Linked DNA regions of Homo sapiens. The gene in region 1 interacts genetically with each later gene. Each region holds a gene or a part of one and is shown in the gene's direction. Other genes may lie near its edges.

Region 1 (7,990 bases):
TCAGGAAAAGTTAGGTAGGTGAGATTCTAAGAAACAACACTATAGAGAGAGTGGGACCATGGTGCCCAAGGACTCCACCTGCACTGTAAGTGTAGACATAACTCTCTGAGCAACTAAGATGGTATTTTCCATTAACAAGGCAATCAATACTTACGACGCTTCATGGGCATGTTGTAAAATACATCTCAAACTTTGAAAAGTTGGCAAAAACAATTGAGGATCAATTTAATTTAAGAATTAGGATCAGTAATTTAAGAATTAGGAGTATATTAGTCTGTTTTCACACTACTATAAAGAACTGCCCGAGACTGGGTAATTTATAAAGGAAAGAGGTTTAATTGACTCACATTTCAGCATGGCTGAGGAGGCCTCAGGAGACTTACAATCATGGCCCAAGGTGAAGGGAAAGCAAGGCACCTTCTTTACAAGGTGGCAGGAAGAAGAAATGAACCCAGGAGGAACTACCACTTATAAAACCATCAGATCTCATGAGAACTCACTCACCATCATGACAACAGCATGCGGAAACCACCCCCATGATTCAATTACCTCCACCTGGTCTCTCCCTTGACACATGGGGTTTATGGGGATTACAATTCAAAATGAGATTTTGGTTGGGAAAACAGCCAAACCATATTAAGGAGGAAAGATACATTCATGCATCTCCTATTTTTTACATTAAATTGTTCTTTGGAATGATCTGGATTTGAATGATGTGTTATTTATATTTGGCTATCCTAATTATTCAAACATGAACTGAGAAAATGCTTTTATTGGAGAAGGGAATGGAGGAAGGGAGGCAACTAAAAATTTTAAGAGTCTGAAAACAAAACAAAACAAAACAAAACAAATGAAGCCAAACTTATACTTAGGATAAAAAACCATGCAATTCTCTTCTTTCAAGGTGTATTCGGCATATATTTATCGAGGTTAGCTAACCCATAGGGTGTCAGTGGACACAAAACAGTCAAGATGCCGAGAATTTGGATTCTGGTGGCAAAAAATAGTCAATAAAGAAATACATGAGAAAATAAGGTGAGTTCAGGGAGTGTGAAATGTCAAGATTTTGATAATTATACTATAAAATGCAGGCATAAAATGTGTGTGTTCCTCATTCCTTCAATGCATCCTCAGAGATGATCCCTGGTAAATTAAGGGCTTTCATGCACTTTTTCCTTTTTTTTTTTTTTTTTTTTTTTCCTGGCAGCAGCCAAAAGACATGGCCAGAGCCTGAGCAGGGTAAATATCATCTTTTTTTTTTTAGACAGAGTCTTGCTCTGTCACTTAGGCTAGAGTGCAGTAGCCCGATCTTAGCTCACTGCAACCTCTGCCTCCTGGGTTCAAGCAATTCTCTGCCTCAGCCTCCTGAGTAGCTGGGATTACAGGCACCCGCCACCACGCCTGGCTAACTTTTGTATTTTTAGTAGAGACGGGGTTTCACCATCTTGACCAGGCTGGTCTTGAACTCTTGACTTTGTGATCCACCCGCCTCAGCCTCCCAAAGTGCTGGGATTACAGGCATGAGCCACCACGCCCGCCCCAATATCATCCTCTTTTAAAAGCTCCATAATCCCCTATACCTCTACATCCAATCTCCAGTGGTCTTATAAGAAGAGGACAGACGTACAGTAAAGATGGAGACAGGGACTAAAAGCCAAGGAATGCCAGCAAGCACCAGGAGCTAAGTGAGAGGCAGTGAACAGATTCTTCTCCAGAGCCTCCAAAGGAACCAACTTTGCTGACATTTGATTTTGGACTGCTGGACTCCAGAACTGTAAGTGAATACATTTCTGTTCATTTAAGACATCAGTCTGTGGTAATTTGTCGGGGCAGCTCTAGAAAATTTATACACTAACTCATTGGAAATAACTATCTTTATCATTAAACAGACATCATTCTGGATTATATATATATGTAATATACATATATATAAACAAAATTCCAGATATATCTATACATCATATCATATATTCACACCATATATGGATATATAAACCATATATATCATTCCCACTGGATAGATAGGTACAGATACGTACAGACAGATGGTTAGATTGACAGAAATATTTCTACTATAATGGGGGTAATTCTATACATTCTATATTAAATGTGATTTTACTTGAACGTATCTGAAGTAAAAGAATAGATCTATCCTTCTATTGCACTGTTTTCCTATTTCTGTCCTAAAATCTTGTTGTTCAGTTTATTCAATTTTGTGTAGGGCAAACAGGTACTGTTTGCTACGGTCTAAATGTTTGTGTGCCCTCCCAAACCCAGATGTTGAAATCTAATCACCAATGTAATGGTATTAGGAGGTGGGGCTGCTGGAAGATGACGGTATTAGGAGGTGGAGCCGCTGGAACACGATGGTATTAGGAGGTGGGGCTGATAGGAGACAAAGGTATTAGGAGGTGGGGCTGCTGGAACATTATGGTATGAGGAGGTGGGGCTGCTGGGAGATGACGGTATGAGGAGGTGGGGCTGCTGGGAGATGACGGTATGAGGAGGTGGGGCTGCTGGGACATGATGGTATGAGGAAGTGGAGCTGCTGGGACAGGATGGTATTAGGAGGCGGGGCTGCCGGGAGACGATGGTATTAGGAGGCGGGGCTGCCGGGAGACGATGGTATTAGGAGGCGGGGCAGCTGGGAGACGATGGTATTAGGAGGTGAGGCTGCTGGCTCTGCCCTCATGAATTGGATTAGTTCCTATCTTAGTCCATTCAGCCTACTATAAGACTACCTCAGACTGGGTCATTTATAAACAGCAGAAATTTATCGCTCAGAGTTCTGGAAGCTGGGAGTCCAAGATTAAGGCACTGGCAGATTCAGTGTCTGGTGAGGCCTCACTCTCTGCTTCATAGATGACACCTTTTTCTATGTCTTCACATGGTAAAGAACGGGTGAACAAGCTTCCTTGGGCCCCTTTTATAAGGGCATTGCTATGGCTTAAATGTATGTGTCTCTCTAGAATTCCTATGTTGGAGCCTAAAATCCACTATAATAACATTAAGAGCTGAAGCCGTTTTGGAAGTGATTAAGAAATGAGGCTCCACCCTCTTGAATGGGAATAGTATCCTTACAAAAGAGGTTGACAGGAGTGTCCTAGTTCCCCCCCCTTTTTTTTTGCCCTTTTGCCTCCCATCCCTTCCCTCATGTGAGGACACAGTGTTCGTCCCCTTCTGTGGACCCAGCAAAACAAGGCACTATCTTGGAAGCAGATAGCAAGCTCTTATCAGACACTGACTCTGCTGGTACCTTTATCTTGGACTTCTTAGCCTTCAGAACTCTGAGAAATAATGTCTATTATTTATAAATCACTCAGTCTAAAGTATTCTGTTATAGCAGTGGAAATGGGCTGAGATAGGCACTAATTCCAGTTATGAGGTTAGAGCCCTCATGACCTAATCAATATCCCAAAGCCCCACCTTTTAATACTATTGCACTGGTGATTAGGTTTCAACATATGAATCTGAGGGAACACAAACTTTCAGACCCTAGAAGTGCCACTAAAAGAGAGCTCAGAGAGCTAGCTTTCCCCTTCTATCATGTGAGGGCACTGTGAGTAGGTGCCTTCTGTGAGTCATCTGTGAATCTCTGGGTCCTCACCAGCGACCAGATTGGCTAGCACCTGGATCCTGGATTTCCAACTTTCAGAACTGTGAGAAATAAATTTGTTGTTCATAAGCTGCCTAGTTTATGATATTTTGTTACAGCAGTCAACACAGACTAATACACTACTCTTCTTTGTTTCCAAGTTTTCTTGATAATTAATTATGTGATCTTCCATATAAAACTTAAAATTAATTAGTTCTAAAACACATATCCCCAAGAGAATTTGGGACTCTCATGAGAATTGCACTAATTTTGTAATTTGACTTGGGAAGAATTGACAGTATTTTTGATACTGACTACTCACCTAAGAATACAGCATGTTTTACATTTACTAGGGCCTTATTACTGCCTTTTCAGTAAAGGTTTATAATAAAGATTGTGTAACTTGTTAAAGTTTATCCCTAAGTATTTTATGGTTTCTGTTGCCATTGTGGAGGAAATATTATTTCATTTTTAATATGTTTTTGCTTATTCAAATAATTCTAATTTTTCTTCTACTTACTTAAGCTTTATTATTGCACTCAATTTTAAAATTGAGGCACCTAGATTTTCAAGGGTTCCTGTCATCTGCAAATATTAACATTGCCTTTTCCTTTTAGGTCTTAACAATGACACAGTTTGTTGTGCCACATAGGGACGAAGCTTTTCGTGGCTAGGGTTGAGGAGGGCTTGCTGGTTATGTGCAAGGGCTTTGCACAATATGATCTAGGTTCACGTCCCTGCTCTGTCACCTACTGGTTGTGTGACCCTTATTTAACCTCTGTGGACCTCAGGGTCCTCATCTCTGAAACGTGGATAATAGTAGTACTTAATTCAGAATTGTAAGAATTAAGCACTTGTTAATACATTAAAGCATTTAGAAGGCACATTAAGCCCTATAGTAAGCATTAGGTTACATTCATCAAAACCTGCTGCCTACTTACCTCCTGCAAGTCTCATAAGCACTTCAGAAAGTGTGGTGTCTCCATTCTACGAATGAGGAAACTAAGTCCAAGGCAGCAAGTGATGAGTGCAGGGTCACTTGGAGATACATTTTAGGGCTGCCCCACAAGACCAGCTCCTAGAAAATAATGCAATCAATCAACTTCTGCGAGGCCGGACTTAAATCCCACTAAAACGTGCTTAATTCATTCAACAGGCGTTGGCATCTTACCAGGGAGGAAAAAAAAAAAAAGAGTACGCCAAGGCGAAAAGGAGAGTCTCCATCTATTGCGTCTCAGGCTTCCGCCAAGACTGGCGGAAAAAAACGAGTCCGCTCCGAAGCGCTCGCCTGCCTTCGGCAAAAATCGTCAGGAGGCGGGGCCCACGCTTCGGCACGTTTCGCGCAGGGCATTGTGGGAAGGGCGGCCGGTGCAGCCGCAGCTGCCATCTTAGGGGCGCCTGGCGCTACGGGTTTCTCGTTGGAGGCGGCCTTCGTGGCAGCTGTAGACGCCGGGAAAAGGCATAAAGTCCGTTGGCCGACACCTTTCTTTCCTCCGGCCTCGGTAGAACCGCCAGCCCGCGTCCGAAGGCGGAGGCGAGGGGAACTGGCCGCGTGAGGGGCCTGAGGCGAGCGGTTAGAGCGTCTCCCGGAAGGATGGGCCGGTCTCGGAGCCGGAGCTCGTCCCGCTCCAAGCACACCAAGAGCAGCAAGCACAACAAGAAGCGCAGCCGGTCCCGGTCGCGATCCCGGGACAAGGAGCGCGTGCGGAAGCGTTCCAAATCTCGGGAAAGTAAACGGAACCGGCGGCGGGAGTCGCGGTCCCGTTCGCGCTCCACCAACACGGCCGTGTCCCGGCGCGAGCGGGACCGGGAGCGCGCCTCGTCCCCGCCCGACCGCATCGACATCTTCGGGCGCACGGTGAGCAAGCGCAGCAGCCTGGACGAGAAGCAGAAGCGAGAGGAGGAGGAGAAGAAAGCGGAGTTCGAGCGGCAGCGAAAAATGTGAGTGCCCGCGCGGGGAGGGACCGGGGCGTGCGGAGAGCAGGGCGCGGGGCGAGGGCGTGGGGCCGGGGCGGGACGGTGCGGGCCGGGAGAATGGCGGGGACGGTCCGGGGCTGGGGACCGGGCGCGGGAACGGGTCGGAGAGGCGGCGGCGGGGCGGGCAGGCTTGGCGTTTGGAAAGCTTGGGGTGGGACAGACCCAGAAGTTGTTCGGGATGGAAAATTCGAGGGCTTGAGCAGAAAGGGTTTAAGAGAAGGCGATTTTGGCGCGAGAGAGGAGTGGTGTCCCGGAAGTAGGGGTGGAGTTCGGAGTGAGGTCGGAGAGCTGCGTTGGCTTGTGAGGCCGGGAGCGAGCCGGCCTGCAGATGTGGAGGGTGGTGAGCGTTTGCTGGTCGGCTTGAGGAGGAGAGAGAAGGGAATTAACCTTTGAGATGCGAATCACAGCTGGCCAGAAGCATTCTATTGAAGCTCAAATTTGGGACAGGACTTAACTAATCTCGGGAATCATACACTTTAGGTGGTCCGCCAGAAAAATGCATTTTCACTTTAGTGTATTCCTGTTGTTAAGGTGTTGGGATTGCTTTTTTCCCCTTGAGCCTACACCCTCACCCCTTCCTTGAGATGTTAAAAAAAAAAAGCATAGACCTTAAGTGTACAGTGCGATGAGTTTTTTGACCTTTGAATTCACCTGTGTAATCACCATCCCAAAGCCTACCGCTTTTTTAACTTGCTTTCTATTCCTGTAGCAAACACGTGCAGTTTTGTTGTTTCCCTTACACTGTGCTTCTTCAGAAGACACTTGAAGGGTTGATTTTATTTTGGCGTTGCTCCCATGAAGGATATTTAGTGAAAACTAGAGTTAGAGTGTGTTTCCGAAAATGTCAGCTCTCAAGTATTTCTGGCTATGAAAGTAGATGTGGATAAATAATCCCAAACTAAAGGAATTTTTGGGTTTTAAAATTTAGGGATTTGTTGTGTGTTTTGCTTTATGATCATCGTACTTTGATGCTCTGGGTATTCAGTTTCCAAAAACCGCATTGAAAAGTAGATTTGAACAGTCCTACTAACTCCCTATTGAACCAGCCGTACTTGGTCAGTTCTTCAGTGAATATTTAGAAAGTGCTCATGAAGCAAGAACGTTACTGAATTTATGATTTTCTCGAGGCGAGTATATGTGTGCTGAATTGACTGCGTGGTTTGTAGTTTTCTGTAGTTGGGTTTGTGTTAGGTAGATTTTCCAGCACACACACACAGCTTGTTTCTAAAACCAAAGTTACTAAAAGGTAGGACTGGAGCACTAATATTACAGAGGAAGCTGTACCTGGAGCTGTTTTGCTTCCAACACTCCTTTAAAACACATGCAACACTCATTTTTCCTGTACTTAGAACTGTCAGTGATACATATGAAAACAAAGTTCAAGTAATCGTTTCAAATTAAACCTTGATTTTGTAGAATACAACTTTTGGGTCTGCAACAAGGCCCTTAGCTGTAAAGATCTCAAATAGCTATCAACAGATGGATGTATGAAAAGTTACCTAAGACATTGCTGAGATAATTTCTACATGTGAAAACAAAGGAGACCTCCAAAGAGTAATAACTTGCCTTTCACTAGAAAGCTAAGATATGTAGGAAAAATGAAAAGAAACTTGGTATGCAAAGAATAAATAGAAGCATTTAGCAGGTTTCGCATGTATAGCAGACAAGAAATTCAGGAATGAAATACGGCAAATAGAGGAGCTATATGGTTCTCTGGTTTGAGAGAAGACACAAACTGCCAATAGTATTTAGGAGGGAGAAGGGACCAGGACTAGCAGCCACCTGTACTCTAAATTCCTGGGTGCCGTACAATAGGCATTTTATTTAATATATTCTAATGTCTTGGAAACAATGCAAAAGAAACAATGGAAAGACTTAAGTGTTGGAGCTTTGGCAGTGTAAGGAAACAGTTTGCAGTCTACATATCCTGTTGGTTATTTTATTCATTTAACTGATGTTTATTGAGCATTTAATAAGTGCCAGGCACTGTGCTAGGTACTGTTAATATAAAGATGATTGGCCCTTCTCCAAGAGCTTGATCTAGCTCAAAGACAGATCATTAAATAGGCAATAATACAGTGTAGTAAATTTAGTGACAGTAATATAAACTGTATAAAGGAAGTATCCTGTGTGGGTGGAGGATATAAGAATATGACAATGTCAGGCAAGGTATAGGACATATGTGGAGCACAGAAAAGAGCCTCCTCCCCCGACTCCTGCCAAAATAGAGGAAATGGTCTTAAAAGTGGAATGATCAGGTGACTGTTGACTTAGAACACGAAGTTCTATAAATATTTAAGTCATGGAGTGACTGGAGAGGTAAATAGAGGCTGGGAATCATGTTAGGGTTATTGTATGTCATATTAAAGAGCTTGGATTGCATCCTAGAAACGGGAAGGATTTTAAGCAGGTGAATGA
Region 2 (7,000 bases), on another chromosome or scaffold:
AGGTAATGTAAATGAGTTAATTGAGTCCCATGGGAATGTATTAGGATTAGTGGGGACTGTTGTGTACTGGACAACCCATGCCTTTATTTTTTTTTTGTCTTTAATTTTAATTTCTTTTTATTGAGACAGGGTCTTGCTCTGTCACCCCGGCTGGAGTGCAGAGGAACGATCACAGCTCACTGCAGCCTTGACCTCTGGGCTCAAGTGATCTTCCTACCTCAGCCTCCCAAGTAGCGGGGAACACAGATGTGCGCCATCATGCCCAGCTAATTTTTTAATATTTTGTAGAGACAAGGTCTCACTGTATTGCTCAGGCTGGTTTCGAACTCCTAGACTCAAGCAGTCCTCCCACTTTTGCCTCCCAAAGTGCTGGGATTTTAGGAATGAACCACCATGCTCAACCCATTCCTTTATTTAGAAGAGCCAACTGCTCCTTTTTCAGCAGATTGTTACTGTTTTAGAGTGCAGGCACAGAATGACCACTCTTTCTATTTTTCAGGAGAAACTGGAAATTTAGATCATTGTGTTTTCTAATTGTTGGAAACTAGTTAAAAGTATTTTTAAGCCTTTTTCAGGCCAAAGAAAATATGTCTGTGGACTGGATTCTGCCCAATGGTTACTGGATGATGACCCTCAATAAACAAAATGGGCAGGCCTTATGAGACTTAATCACTGCAGTTCTCTATACATAATCACATAGACTTTTTTTCTTTGTCCTACTCTGCCAGCTGTCACCTTTGTACCTTGGGTGCCCTGAGTGGCTAAAAGATGGAGTGAGATAGAGAAGGTTTGTTTTATTTTTCATCTCCAAGCTGGCAGAAGGGACAGCTTTGGACATATTAGTAGCTTACCTTGTAAACGGTTTTTGAGATACTCTCAGAATCTCCACAGGGGGAGGAGATGGCATGCTAGAGCTGAGGTACCCTGGTCACCCGATTATCAGGTCTGGGAGGATTTTCCAGTGATGCATTGTCAGGGCACCAGCTTTTTTCCCAGTTTAACCTTCTTTTACTTCCACCCTTTAAGTAAATTTCTTGAGCTCAGTAAGTTGTTTCCTAGTTTAGTAACTTTGGTTATTCTCAATAAAGCACAGAACTATGATGTGTTCCTAGGCCAGCTCTGGAAATGTTAAAAGCTCTGCATCTTTAGTGTTTCTCTGGCTTTTTTTTTTTTTTTCTCTGATGGAGTCTTGCTCTGTTGCCCAGGCTGGAGTGCAGTGGTGTGATCTTGGCTCACTGCAACCTCCGCCTCCTGGGTTCAAGCAATTCTCCTGCCTTAGCCTCCCAAGTAGCTGGGACTACAGGTGCACGCCACCACACCCAGCTAATTTTTGTATTTTTAATAGAGATGTGGTTTCACCATATTGGCCAGGCTGGTCTTGAACTCTTGACTTCGTGATCCGCCCACCTCGGCCTCCCAAAGTGCTGGGATTATAGGTGTGAGCCAATGCGCCCAGCCTTCTCTGGCTTTTAAAGGTATTGAGTGAACATAAACCTTAGAAGGGCCTATTGCTGGTCCTTTAGCTCCCTACTACCATCTACCTTTTCAGAAAGTCCATCAGTTTTTCTTGGTTTGCCCAGCTCTGTATTAGACACAAAGGCATCATGAAAAAGAAAAACAAAATTGCGCTTTTGCCTTTGGAGAATTTATTTGCTAGTTGGATAAGAATAATTTTTTTTTGAGACAGAGTCTCTCTCTGCCACCCAAGCTGGAATGCAGTGGTGTGAGATCTCGGCTCACTGCAACCTTTGCCTCTCAGGCTGAAGTGATCCTCCCATCTCAGCCTCCTGAGTAGCTGGGACTATAGGTGCGTGCCACCACGCCTGCCTGATTTTTGTGTTTTTTGTAGACACAGGATTTTACTATGTTGCCCAGAGTCCAGTGGTGTCATCATAGCCCATTGCAGCCTTGATTTTTTTTGGCTCAACTGATCCTCCTACCTTAGGCTCCCTAGTGGCTGGAACTACAGGCATGTATCACTATGTCCCACTAATTTTTTTTTTTTTTTTTTTAATTTATGTTGCCTAGGCTGGTCTCTGACTCCTGAGCTCAACCATTCCTCCTGCTTTGGCCTCCTAAAGTGCTGGGATTAAAGATGAGAGCTACTGCACCTGGCCAAGGAAATGTTTAAAAGTGATTAAGAGGCCGGGCGTGGTAGCTCATGCCTGTAATGCCAGCACTTTGGGAAGTCAAGGGAGGCAGATCACCTGAGGTCAGGAGTTAAAGGCCAGCCTGGCCAACATGGTGAAACGCTGTCTCTACTAAAAATATAAAAATTAGCTAGGCGTGGTTGTGGGCGCCTGTAATCCCAGCTACTCGGGAGGCTGAGGCAGGAGAATCACTTGAACCCTGGAGGTGGAGGTTGCAGTGAGCCGAGATTGCGCCACTGCACTCCAGCCTAGACGACAAGAGCGAAACTCTGTCTCAAAACAAACAACCAAACAAACACAAAACCAAACCCCATAAAAGTGATTAAGAAAAAAAAAAAAACCACTTAAACACTAGTGTACTAAAAACAGCTATTTAGAGCCAAAGAAAATAAGGCATATATGAAGAATTGACAGTTACATTAAAAATTATATATTTCACAAAAATGTGAATGTGCAAATAACACTTAAGGAGATGTCAGGAAGATAGACGTGAAAAAAGAAGCATTATGATATGGCTGGTAGGTAAATGTGGGTTCTTTTTACCTGTATGGAAGGTTTGTAACTTCTGGTAGAGAAGCAAATATATATTATCAAAAAAAGGTTTGCCAGTGTGGCTCAGAGTTATTGTCTTCTATGAAGTCATTTTTCTCATGAGGTGGATGTGTGCTGTACCACTCTTGAAGAGTCAGTCTTGATGTTATTTCATTTGTTCATCTAGTATTTATTGATCATTTTTCTTACTATGTGTCAGGCTTTGGAGATAAAAGGGTAAATAAATCATGGTCTTTCCCCCTGAGATAGAGCCTGATAGTCCCATGGTGGTGATACACTAAATAAATAATTATAAATTAGTATAAGATGTGTTTATTTTTATTTTCATTTATTTATTTGAGGCAGAGTCTCACTCTGTCACCCAGGCTGGAGTACAGTGGCACGATCATACCGCAAGGCAACCTGGAACTCCTGGGCTCAAGTGATCCTCCTGCCTTAGCCTCCCAAGTAGCTGGGACAACAGGTGTGCGCCACCACACCTGGCCAATTTTTCTTTATGTTTTGTAGAGACAGGGTCTCGCCATGTTGCCTAAGCTGGTCTTGAACTTCTAGGCTCAACTGATGCTCCCTCCTTGGCCTCCCAAAGTGCTGGGATCACAGACATCAGCCACTGTCCCCAGCCAAGATATGTTTAGAGATAACTACAAAGTGCTGTGGGTGGCCGGGCATGGTAGTTCATGCCTATAATCCCAGCACTTTGAGAGGCCGAGGCAGGCAGATCACTTGAGGTCAGGAGTTTGAGACCAGGAGTTTGAGACCAGCCTGGCCAACATGGTGAAACCCCAACTCTACTAAAAATACTCTGCTAAAAAAGTGGAAAAAAGGGCTGGGCGCAGTGGCTCACACCTGTAATCCCAGCACTTTGGGAGGCCGAGGTGGGCAGATCACCTGAGGCCGGGAGTTTGAGACCAGCCTGACCAACACGGAGAAACCTCATCTCTACTAAAAATACAAAATTGGCCCGGCATGGTGGCGCATGAATGTAATCCCAGCTGCTGGGAGGTTGAGGCAGGAGAATCGCTTAAACCTGGGAGGCAGAGGTTACGGTGAGCCGAGATTGTGCCATTGCACTCCAGCCTGGGCAACAAGGGGGAAACGCTGTCTCAAAAAAAAAAAAAAAGTGGAAAAATAAATAAATAAATAAATAAGTGGTTTTAAGATTGTTCTTAGAACCACTGTGATATTCTGACTCCCTCATTGACTTTTGGATGGAATGAGTAAGGGTTTATCAGGTGGACAAGAGTGAGAAAAAACATTCAGAATAGAAAGGGAGCTTCATATGCAAAGGCAAAGAGGCAGCAAAGACCATGACTTTAAAAAGTAGGAATGATGTGGCGTGGTGGCCCACACCTATAATCCCAGCATTTTGGGAGGCCAAGGCAGGCAGATTGCTTTGAGCTCTGGAGTTTGAGACCAGCCTGGGCAACATGGCAAAATGTTGTCTCTACAAAAAATACAAAAAAATTAGCCAGGCATGGTGACTCATGCCTGTAGTTCCAGCTACTTGGGAGGCTGAGGTGGGAGGATCGCTTGAGCCTGGGAAGCAGATATTGCAGTGAGTCAAGATTGTACCACTGCACTCCAGCCTGGGCGACAGAATGAGACCCTGTTTCAAAAAAAAAAAAGGAACTTTTTAACTTTTTAGGGTCTTTTATTTTATTTTATTATTATTATTTTTTGAGCCGGTGTCTTGCTCTGCTGCCCAGGCTGGAGACCAGTGATGCAATCTTGGCTTACTGCAACCTCCACCTCCTGGGTTCAAGCAATCCTCCTGCCTCAGCCTCCTGAGTAGCTGGGATTACAGGCCCCTGCCATCATGCCCAGCTAATTTTTGTATTTTTAGTAGAGTGGGGGTTTCACCATGCTGGCCAGGCTGGTCTCAAACTCCTGACCTCAGTTGATCTGCCTGCTTTGGCCTCCCAAAGTGCTGGGATTACAAGCATGAGCCACTGCCCCCAGCCGAGGGGCTATTTTAGACAAAGAATATGTGTAGCTTATATGGGGCACCAATGGCTGCCACCCAGCTTGAAAAATAACATCACCAAAACTGAGGCTGCATGTATGTATGCCCTTCCCTGTTAGTTCCCCCACACTCCCTGCCGCTTGCCACTATTCTCAATTTTTTTGTGTGAGCTTCTCTGGGGTATAGTCCTAGAAGTGGAATTGCTGAAATATAGGATATGAAGTGCTTTAGCTTTGTAAGATAATGCCAAATTGTTATTCAAATTCATATTAATTTAGATACATACCAGCCACTTGGTCTGCATTTTTTACCAACTTAAAAACAATTTTTTTTTTGAGACAGGGTCTTACTCTGTTGTCCAGGCTGGAGTACAGTGGTGTGATCGTGGCTCACTGCAGCCTTGACCTCCTAGGCTCAAGTGATCCTCCCACTTCAGCCTCTCAAGTAGCTGGGACTACAGGCACATGCCACCATGCCCTACTAATTTTTAAATTTTTTGTAGAGATGGAGTTTTGCTATGATGCCCAGGCTGTTCTCAAACTCCTTGGCTCAAGTGATCCTCCTGCATCGGCCTCCTAAAATGCTGGATTATAGGCGTGAGCACCTGGCCTTTTAAGTATTATCAGATTTAAAGTGTTTTGCTATTTCAGGAATGTAAAGTGGTATATCATTATAATCTTATTTTGTAATTTTCCTGATTATTAATGAAGCTAATAATCTTTTCATATATTTATTTGCTGTTTATGTTTCCTATTCTGTGAAACACCTATTCATCTCTGTTGCCAATTTTGGGGAGGGGTTATATGTCTAGTTCTTATAGTTTTGTAGCAGTTATTGTATACTCTGGATATTACTCCTTTATATTAGTTATATGTGCCTCAAATATTTTCTTCTGGTTTGTGCCTTATCTTTTCCCTCTTTTTTATGTTGTCTTTTGAACAGGCATTTTTAATTTTAACATGGTTGAATTCACCAATTTTTTAAAGAGGTTTTGCTTTTTGTTTCTTGTTTAGGTACTTCTCCCTTATGCTGAGTTTATAAAAATACTCTCCTGTAGCCAGGTGCTGTGGCACACACCTGTTGTCCCAGCTACCCAAGAGGCTGTTGTGGAAGGATTGCTTGAGCCTAGGAGTTTGAGTCCAGCCTGGGCAACATGGCAAGACCCTATCTCTAAAAAAAAATCAAAAAGAAAATATTCTCATATATTAGCTTCTAAGAGATTTCAAGTTTTGCTTTTCATATTTAAATAACCTGAGATATATTTTTGGTATTCCATTAAATAAGAATACAATTTATTGTTTCTTTTTCTCCTGCTTTTGTTGGATATAGACAGAGTTGCCAAGTGATACAGTGACTCCTCTTTGGATCCTGTTGAGGTAACTGGGATGCCACAAAGCACTAGGGGAATGTTCTAGACCCAGCTTTAAATGGACAGTGGTTTCAAGGGTACATGTTACTCAGAGTCTCTGGGCCAGTGGCTTATCTGGCTAAGGGTGTTAGTTGGTATTTATTTAGTTGTTCCCTCTCTTATTTATTTTTTTCTATTAATTTTTCATTTGTGTGGGTACATAATGAATGTATTTCTCTTGTTATTTCTGACACAAGATAAATCTTAAGTTCGTTTCTACTATACTTTTATGAGGTTTCTGCAGGCCTTTATGACCTTGTGACAAGGGATTTCTTGGCCATTGGCTACCAGGCAGCAAGTGGTTCATCAGTTTCCCATCTGAAGCTGAAGGGCACAACTGTTTGGAGATTCCCTGAGTGAGGGGACATACTCAGAGACCTAGAAGGAGATTAGGCAGCTCTGCATAGTACTTGAAAATAATTCCTCTTCATTCCCTAGATGTTTCTTTTTTTTTGAGACAGAGTCTCACTCTGTTGCCCAGGTTGGAATGCAGTGGCGCGATCTCGGCTCACTGTAACCTCCACCTCCTGGGTTCAAGTGATTCTCCTGCCTCAGCCTCCCAAGCAGCTGGGATTACAGGTGTGTGTCACCACACCTGGCTAATTTTTGTATTTTTAGTTGAGGTGGCGTTTCACCATGTTGGCCAGGCTGGTCTTGAACTCCCAACCTCAGGTGATCTGCCCACCTCAGCCTCCCAGAGTGCTGGGATTATAGGCGTGAACCACTGCGCCCAGCCCTAGATGTTTCTTTTTTACAATGATTTTTTGCTTAGACCTTTGCTGTCTTAGAAAGTGGTTACTTCTTTTCTAAAGGGCTTATTCATTTTTAGTCAATCAGCTGATTAAAATTTAAAAGTAGTTAATAGGTAATATATGTTTGTGACACAAAATTCAAAAGGTAAAAAAGAATATACAGAGAAAAGTTAGT

The links.
Region 2: changes in ARGLU1 (region 1) and GBF1 together harm fitness more than expected from each alone (negative genetic interaction), as found in Homo sapiens cells (one study listed by BioGRID).

Annotation. Positions count from the first base shown.
Region 1 is NC_000013.11:106,565,119-106,573,108, reverse strand, and holds the start of ARGLU1 (arginine and glutamate-rich protein 1), read left to right. Parts: upstream 1-4,971; 5' UTR 4,972-5,189; coding exon 5,190-5,536; intron 5,537-7,990. UniProt on the Homo sapiens protein: Dual function regulator of gene expression; regulator of transcription and modulator of alternative splicing. General coactivator of nuclear receptor-induced gene expression, including genes activated by the glucocorticoid receptor NR3C1.
Region 2 is NC_000010.11:102,248,532-102,255,531, forward strand, and holds part of GBF1 (Golgi-specific brefeldin A-resistance guanine nucleotide exchange factor 1), read left to right. Parts: intron 1-7,000. UniProt on the Homo sapiens protein: Guanine-nucleotide exchange factor (GEF) for members of the Arf family of small GTPases involved in trafficking in the early secretory pathway; its GEF activity initiates the coating of nascent vesicles via the localized generation of activated ARFs through replacement of GDP with GTP.